Regions from separate parts of the Homo sapiens genome. Here region 2 is linked to region 1. Evidence: fine-mapped expression QTL. A gene starts in region 1. The other region holds a variant in brackets. All regions are shown on one strand. Distances are between the middles of the regions. Region 1 holds the start of RAB23 (RAB23, member RAS oncogene family). Region 2 has its middle 20 kb from the start of LINC03001.

The links. PIP is the estimated chance that this variant, and not a neighbour inherited with it, causes the effect. A credible set is the group of variants that fine-mapping cannot tell apart.
Region 2: its variant is the best candidate, but not a certain one, in a credible set for the expression of RAB23 in fibroblasts (GTEx, PIP 0.68).

Annotation. Positions count from the first base shown.
Region 1 is chr6:57,220,347-57,224,745 of GRCh38, reverse strand. RAB23 (RAB23, member RAS oncogene family) reads left to right here and starts at 2,439. Exons shown (of 7, transcript NM_016277.5): 1 at 2,439-3,020. It also overlaps a transcript of PRIM2 not described here. RefSeq lists a silencer at 2,736-3,085.
Region 2 is chr6:57,241,116-57,245,514 of GRCh38, reverse strand. It overlaps a transcript of PRIM2 not described here. Among named protein-coding and RNA genes, the nearest start is that of LINC03001, 20 kb to the left of the region's middle. The variant A/G (reference allele first, on the strand shown) is at 2,024.

The DNA.
Region 1 (4,399 bases):
TGGGGAGGAAAGAAATGATTTTGGGGGAACCCCCTTTCAGGAAGTTTTTCTCAAATTTGGATCCCAGAAGTACTCCCTGAGACCCTCTAAGATTTTCTTTTTTTTTTTTCCCATTAAAAAGAAATTTGGCAAGATATACATAAAACATAAAATTTACCATTTTTAGCCATTTTTAAGTATAAAGTTCAAGAGCATCAAGTTTATTCACATCGTTGTGCAACCATCACCACCATCTATCTCCAGACTTTCTTCATCTTGCAAAGCTAGAACTGTAGACATAAAACAGTAACTCCCCATTCCCACCTGCCCTTCCTTTCCCACAACCACTTCCCACCCCCCAACTGTCTCTATGAATTTGACTACTCTATGTACCTTATATAAGTTGAATCATACAGCATTTGTCCTTTTGCGACTAGGCATAATGTCTTCAAGCTTCATCCATGCTATAACATGTGTCAGAATTTCCCTCTCTCTCTTTTATTTTTGAGACAGGATTTGCCCAGGCTGGTCTTGAACTCCTGGATTCAAGTGATCCTCCCATCTCAGCCTCCTAAGTAGCTGGGATTACAGGGATACCTCGCCACACCTGGGTCCCTCCTTTTTTAAGGCTGAATAATATTTTATTGCATGTATATACTACATTTTGTTCATCCATTCATCCATTGATGGACATTTGGGTTGCTTCCACCCTTTGGCTATTGTGAATAATGCTGCTATAAACATGGTTGTACAAATTTTTTTTTGAGTCCCTGTTTTCAATTCTTTTGAATATATACTCAGAAGTGGAATTATTTAATCATACGATAATTCTATTTTTAATGTTCTGATGAACCATACAATTTTCCATAGTGGCCGTACCATTTTACATTCCCACCAGCAGCACACAAAGGTTATAATTTTTCCACATCCTTGCCAACACTCATATTTATTTTCTGTTCTGCTTTGTTTATAATCATCATTTTAATGAGTGTGAAGTTGTATCTCATGGTTTTGAGTTGCATTTCCCTCATGATTAGTGACCTTGAGTCTCTTTTCATGTGCTCATCGGCCATTTGTATACCTTCTTTGGAGAAATGTCTATTCAAGTCATTTGCCAACTTTTTAATTGTTTTTTTTCTTTTCTCAGAAAGGGCATCAGTACGTTACTCAAGTTTAAGAGATACTGCCAACCAAATCCTAGAGATAAATCTGTTAGCTACTTGATATTAAATTTCTTACAAATACTATTGCTATTATAGGTAAAATAATCTCCACTAATTTTTAAAATTATTAAGTGTGAATTATAATTCACATACAGAAAAATGTGCATAAGAGTACAGCTTGAATTTTCACAAATGGACACGCATTTATAACTAGCGCCAAAATCAACGGAGAGAACCTCACTAGAAGGAAGCCCCTCTTCCAGTTGCTAACTGGAAGCCCCTCTTCTAGTCGCTAACTCCTTCCAGTCACTATCCCCTGCCCACCAAGGTAACCATTATGCTAACTTTGAGCCTCTTAGTTCTTCTGTTTTTGTAGTTTATAGAAATGGACTTATGCCATGTGTACTTTTGTTGTCTTTTTATGCTGGGCATTAGGTTTCCCCAGTTGATTCACGTTATTGCCTGTAATTGCAGATGCTTTTTTGCGTTGCTGTATAGTGTTTCATTATATGAACTCTGTGTAATTTCATTAATTTATTCTATTGTTGATGGTCTTTTGGGTTATTCTCATTAAGGAATTATTACAATAAATGCAGCTACGAACATTCTGATACCTGCCTGTCCGTGCACCCTAAGTATTCGTTTCTCTTTGCTCTATATGCAGGCGTGGAACTGCGGGGCCATAGGGTATGCACCTTTTGCAGACAGTCCCAAACTGTTTTTCAAAGGAGTTGTTCCAGTTTACATTCCAGCAGCAAAGTAGAAGAATGCAGTTACTCTACATCCTGGCCAACACTTGGTATTTTCCATCTTTTTTTTCTATTCTATTTTATTTTGAAATATAAAAACAACTGAAGCAAAGTTGAGATTGCTTTTGCGGAACCTTTTCGTTTTTGGTTCGCTTCTCTGAATAATTAACCATCTCAGGCTTCTATTTTGTCCTGCAGGCTGTGTGAGTGCGTTTTCGACTTTGCTCGACATTTTTTTGCTCACTTGGCCACTTAAGATGTCATCTGGTCAAGAAAATAAGGTAGGTGTCCGAAGCGGGGCAAGCCCTTTGAGGACACTGGAAGTGTGATAACTCTGTAGGCGAAACTCATGCGGACCGTCATTGGCCGATTTCTCTTTTCTAGAGTTCACGATCTAGGAGATCCTGCTCGTCTCTGATCTCCCCACTGCCCTCCCGGGCTCCCTTGGAGGCGCCTGGAAAGCTGAGCCGCCGCCAGCCACCCGCCAGAACAGGGGCGGGGCAGGGCCGCGGGTCCGCACAGAGCATGCGCAGACGAAGCACGGCGCATGCTCCGCAGCGCGGCGGGTCCACAGATGAGGGGAGTCGAGACTCCCGCGCCCCACCACCCCCGGCGGAGCTGCTGCTGAGCCACTCAATCTGAGCCCTGGCTACTAATAAAGTTCGTTTAAAAATCATAATCATTCTTAAGAGAGCGAAAGAGGGTGCGAACTAGCCGCTCGGCCCCGCAGGGAGAGCTGGCGCGTCGGGAGGAGACAGCGGCGGCAGCGGTTGCGCCGCGACCAGGAGGAGCCGGTGGCGCCGGGCGGCGGGTCCGCGGCCGGTGGGGGACGGTGAGTAGCGGCTCGCGCTGCGGTGCAGCGGCGCTGCACTCACTCGCCCTCTCCAGGGGCTGGGGGTTCGTCCGGCTCCACTGGGGAAGACTCAGCTTCTCCCCGGGGTCCCGGGTTGTGCCTTACTCTCCGGAGTGGGCAGGGGTATCGAGGGCAGGGGCCTCCCGGCCCGGCTCCCCCATCCCCCGGTTCGGACCGCCGAGCGCCGGCTCTCCCCTCCCTGAGCACCGATCCCAAGTTCCAGCTAGAGAAGGTGGGCGGCAGCGCCAGCCCGGCGCCCCCTCCCAGCTCCCAGCGGTGGGTACCTGGAATTGCCTGGTGGGCGGGAAAGAGGGGTGGAGCGAGGGCGGCGCTGCGTCCCCAGTCTGGCCGAACGTTCGGCTTTTTGCCTGCCCCAAGTCCCGACTGGGGAAGGGGCGACCCGGGCTGGGCCAGACACCAGTAAGGGCGTGAAGTGCTCAGGTTAGGTTTGATGGCGAAGAGAGTCCTCAGCTCCACCCTGGCATTTAGACTCCTCCCTGCAGTGCGACCACTCTTTACCCGCGACCCCACCCTTCCCTAGTTTCTTGTTCATAGAGTGCTGGAATATGAATGAGCCAAATTGTGCTGTTCCATTGACACTGGTTGCTACAGAATTAACTTTACTCGGAGATCCGAGGAGCCATCGGCAGTTCCCAGGAGTAAGAACCTGAGAGCGTGTGAGAGTAAGAACTTCATTATCAGGAGCTAGTGAAGTGGCAGTAGGGTCTGAAAAGGGCTGTTAACTTCTCTAGGTTTTTATGTATCTCCTAACATCTAGGTAATTTCATTGACCCTAAGAAGTTTTTCAGTATTTTTACAAATATAACCTGTACTTCTACTTAAATAAAGGCTGTTATGAGAAAACAACCTTTTGATTAGTGAGTTAACTCACCCTTTGCTTCTCTAATTTATTAGACCGCATTAGCAAAATGTTAAAAGTTTTGGGGAAAGGGTATTTATATAAAGTATTATTGTCGAGGTTTTTAATTGTACTCAGAAGTATGCTTATTTCTAGGAACGTAATTGTTTTGATCTAGTGCTTTAAGTCTATAGTTTCTGAAAAGCAAGAGTCCGACTGCCTGTTAAAATTTAATTTGGCTTTTTTCTTTAAATTTATTTTAAGGAAATTAATTTATTATTTTAAAAAGTGTATGGTAAAATTGATTTTTTTTCGATGTACAGTTCTGCGAATTTTAGACTCATGTAACCACCACTACAGTAAGGATGTAGAACAAATCTATCGCTCCCCCGCCACAGAAAAAAAACCTAATGTGATCCCATTATATCATACTCCTTACCCCTGGCAATTACTAATCTTTTCTAGAAATGAAATCATAACAGTTAGTAATCTTTCGATGTTAGCTTTTTTTCACTCAGCATAATGCCTTTAAGATTTCTCCAAGTTGTTTCATGTATGGATAATTTCTTTTTTTATTGCTGAGTACTATTTTATTATGTGGATATGCCACAGTCTGTTTCAACATCTGCCCATGGAAGGACATTGAGGTTGTTTTCAGTTTTCTGTGATTATGAATCAATCTGCTATAAATACCATGTACAGGTTTTTGCATGGACATGTTTTCATTTCTCTAGGGTATTGCTAGGAGTGGATTGCAGGGTCATATGGTAAATGTATGTTTAACTTTTAAAAAACT
Region 2 (4,399 bases), 21 kb before region 1:
TGAGTTGCAGTTCCCTGAGCTAACTTGGCAATTTGGTTACCAAACCTCACACAAAGGCTACCTTGCGAGTTTACTGGCACCTCCAGTGATGGCAAATATAACTAACCCATAAAGCATGTAAGAGGTAGGCAGGTGATGCATCATGGGTGTATGAGCTTCATGCACAGCCTTGCACTCAGAAAGACCTACACTATCTTGGAATAATTAACAATTTTATCTTTGATCTTGTGTTTTTAGCTTAATATGATAGGACGATGGAGCATGCTCAACAGCAGCATGGAAGTCATCAAGCAACCCGGCATCCTGGTGACCTGGCCTGGTAACATGCCTTGGGACCATCCTGGGCACCATAGGGCTCCAAGGTGGGTAGGCCTGCACCTAAGCCTAGACTGGTGGGGGCAAATGCAGCAGCAGAAACAGTGGAGAGAGGAAGGCCTCAATGTAGGGCAGTGCTGGGACTCGTGGAGGAAGGGCAGTTCTTCCCTGCCGGGAGCCATCCCTGCAGCCTGTACCTGAGGCATCTGCACACATATCAACTAACTCACTGACCTGAGCAGAGTGAGAGGAGCTGCCTATGCTCAGGAAGTGACTTAGCAAACGTGTTCCATAATTAATACGAAATAAAAGCATAGAGACATGGCAATAAAACGTTTCAGGGAGTTTTTAGAATTCCTCAAGGAGTTCAGAAACTTTGGTTTTGAAAACTGCTGCAGTGTTGCAGGGCAAATACCCACAGGCATGAAAACAGAAATTAAGCAATTTTTTTTTTTTTTGAGATGGAGTTTCGCTCTTATCACCCAGGCTGGGCTCACCTCAACCCCTGCCACTCGGGTTCAAGCGATTCTCCTGCCTCAGCCTCCGGAGTAGCTGGGATTACAGGCATGCGCCACCACGCCCAGCTAATTTTGTATTTTTAGTGGACACGGGGTTTAATCCATGTTGTTCAGACTGGTCTCGAACTCCCGACTTCAGGTGATCCACCTGCCCTGGCCTCCCAAAGTGCTAGGATTACAGGTGTAAGCCACCGCGCCCAGCCAACAAAATTGTATTCAATGGAAAAGAACACTATTTTCATATAAAGCCTTAGCTGAACCAATTTTTAATGAGGAAGACAATTTTAAAATTAATTTTTTCTTATGTGAACAAAAGTTCTCTGAAAAGGAATTTGGAAGAAAGAGACTTTATTCCAGTGAACAGTTTGCAAACTGGGAGATACAGCCTTTGGTGCAAAATGAAGGTGCATTTCGTTAAACAAAGAGAGGGTTCAAGTTCCTGCCCAGCTTCCGGCAAATAAAGGATTCAAACTTGCTTAGTTCTGATTGGTTGGTGCAGCTAAGTTCTGATCGGTCAATATGGCTGGTTTCTGATTGGCTGCGGTAGGTGAGCTCTGATTGGTCGTTTTCCAAGCCCAAACTCAGACGTCACAGGCTTGATTGCAGAAAGGGAGATCCAGTGATACTTCTACATCTTTCTGAGAACAGAATATGTGACTGCTTCCTCGTCCAGCTATGGCTGCATAGTTCTGTTTTTGAGCACCTCAGCCATGAGGAGTCCATTCTATCTGTCAGCCAGGGGTATACTTTAACAGGTATAATTAAAGCTACAGCATAGAATGCATAATTAGGCCCTTTGAATTACATAGAAGTCAGAAGCTACTTTCAGGTTCTCCCACAACCTCGGCAACTTACAGGAAATGTTGGAAGAATCTTTGAAACAGATTTGTATGAAAAACTAAATCCTGGCCAGGCGCTGTGGCCCACACCTGTAATCCCAGCACTTCGGGAGGCCGAGGCGGGATGATCACCTGAAGTCAGAATTCGAGACCAGCCTGGCCAACACGGTGAAGCCCCATCTCTACTAAAAATAAAAATAAAAAAAAGAGTCGGGGCGTAGTGGTGTGCACCTGTAGTCTCGGCTACTTGGGAGGCTGAGGCAGGAGAATCATTTGAACCCGGCAGGCGGAGGTTGCAGTGAGCTGAGATCGCACCACTGCACTCCAGCCTGGGCAACATACCGAGGCTCC[A/G]TCTCAAATAAATAAATAAGCAAACAAGTAAATAAATAAAACAGGATTTAACCTTCTCATCTGTCCCAATATTCCAATTAACATACCCTCTTAATCTTTATCTTAGGGACCAACATCATTCCTTTCCTCATCTTTCTTCCCCCTTTCTCATATGTACACAGCCTCCCATTCTGAACTCAGGCTTTCAATAGCCACCAACCATCAGTAGCACACAAACACTCCTTATCCTTCTTCTTTCCCCATTAAAGCTCCCTTTTCCTGATACCAGGCAGTTATTGAGGGGAAAGGGTTAGGTAGTGAATGACCATCATCATTTGTATGTTTTTGCCATTTGCATTCTAAGAGGCTATGCAATATTAACATTCAGAATGTGTGAAGATGTGAATGAAGAATTATAGATTGCAAATGAGAGCAGATTGAACATTAGGAACCTTCTAAGAACCACTTATCCTTCATAGGTGGCTGACCTTGGTAGATGATATTGATAGTTGATATCGAATTGGAGAACATGGGTTTATGGAACAAGTAATACTACATTGTTTGAGAACATCTGTGAAATTCACAAAAGATATTTAAAACAGAATTTCTAGAAAATTCTTCTTTTCCATGAAAATTTACTCCTGAAGCACAAAACTCAAGGCAAACATCACTGTGAAACTGCCTGTGATTACCTCAGATACAAATCCAGATCAGATTACATCATTGCCTAATTATAATGTAAGGAGCCTGGACTTTTCAAGGCTCCAAATAAAGCCCAGATAGCAACACTGGTTTAAAAAAAGAGAAAAAGAGGCACATGATATGTTACTAATCTTCCTCTGAGAGTTAAGTAAATACACACCCTGAGACGTCATACAGTAAGAACTTTAAAATTGTTTATACCATATTAGGAAAAAAGCTTACACTATGATTAACATGTTTTTCCTTCTGATTTGGTAACCATCATATTGGTTTGGAAAAACATGACGCAATTTAAGTCAATTGTAAGTTATTTTATTTCCATTTTTTAGCCACAAAACATAATTTTTTAGTATTAAATTATTGTTCTTAAAAATAACCTAATTTAAATTACAATAATTCCCTCACAAAACATTGTTAGTAGATTAAAAAAATCAAAATGGCTCACTGTTTTCTGTTTTATTTATTTAAAAGCAATTTTCAAACACAAAATAAATGTAAATCTACATTTTATTGGCAGGAAATTTTTAATGCTTTATTGCTTTTAATGTGTTTTAACATGAAGGAAGTTTTTAGGTATTTTTATTTAAAGATACTGGAAGAAAGAAAGAATTATTTACTGAGCATTTACTGTATGCCAAGCTGTGTTCCAGATATTGATGTGTGATCTCATTACCTTGTACCAGAACATTGTACGAAACTAACTGAAGAAACAACTTATTATTGTTAATATTATTAATAATAGTGAGCCTTTATCAGTCACTTTACAGTTGACACAGAAAATTTTAATGTAATGTCTTTATCTATTTACATATTCATAGTTTAAAAAATTAAATGGTTCTGGCCGGGCACAGTGGCTGACGCCTGTAATCTCAGCACTTTGGGAGGCCAAGGAGGGCAGATCACGAGGTCAGGAGATCGAGACCATCCTGGCTAACATGGTGAAACCCCATCTCTACTAAAAATACAAAAAATTAGCCAGGCGTGGTGGCGGGCGCCTGTAGTCCCAGCTACTTGGGAGGTTGAGGCAGGAGAATGGCGTGAACCCGGGAGGCAGAGCTTGCAGTGAGCCGAGATCGTGCCACTGCACTCAGCAAGACTCCATCTCAAAAAAAAAAAAAAAAATACATAGTTCTGCATAGTTTAGTATTAAAACAGTAATCTAGTAATTCCATACTCCTCCCCATCCCCCCAATTCTTGTTTCCAAAGACTTTCAACACTTTTTTCGGTTTCTTTTGGTATTTACAGCCATTTCTATCCTTGCTAATACTGCTATTTTTTAAAGTTTTTTTTTTTTCTGCTTGCCATTCCTTCAGCAGTTTCCTGAAAAAGTTTTCAGTTTTACACATCTATCAACTTCCTATCATGAAGAGGAGAATCTGCTTTTTTTATTTTTTATTTTTTAAAACAGGGTCTCACTCTGTCATCCAGGCTGGAGTGCAGTGATGTGATCATAGCTCACTGTAATCTCAAACTCCTAGGCTCAAGTGATCCTCCAGTCTCAGCCTCCTGAGTAGCTGAGACAACAAGTGCGTGCAACCACATTCAGCTAATTTTTCTTTTTTCTTTTTTTCTTTTTTTTTTTTTTTGAGACAGAGTCTCGCTCTGTCGCCCAGGATGGAGTGCACTGGCGCAATCTCGGCTCACTGCAAGCTCCGCCTCCTGGGTTCACGCCATTCTCCTGCCTCAGCCTCCCG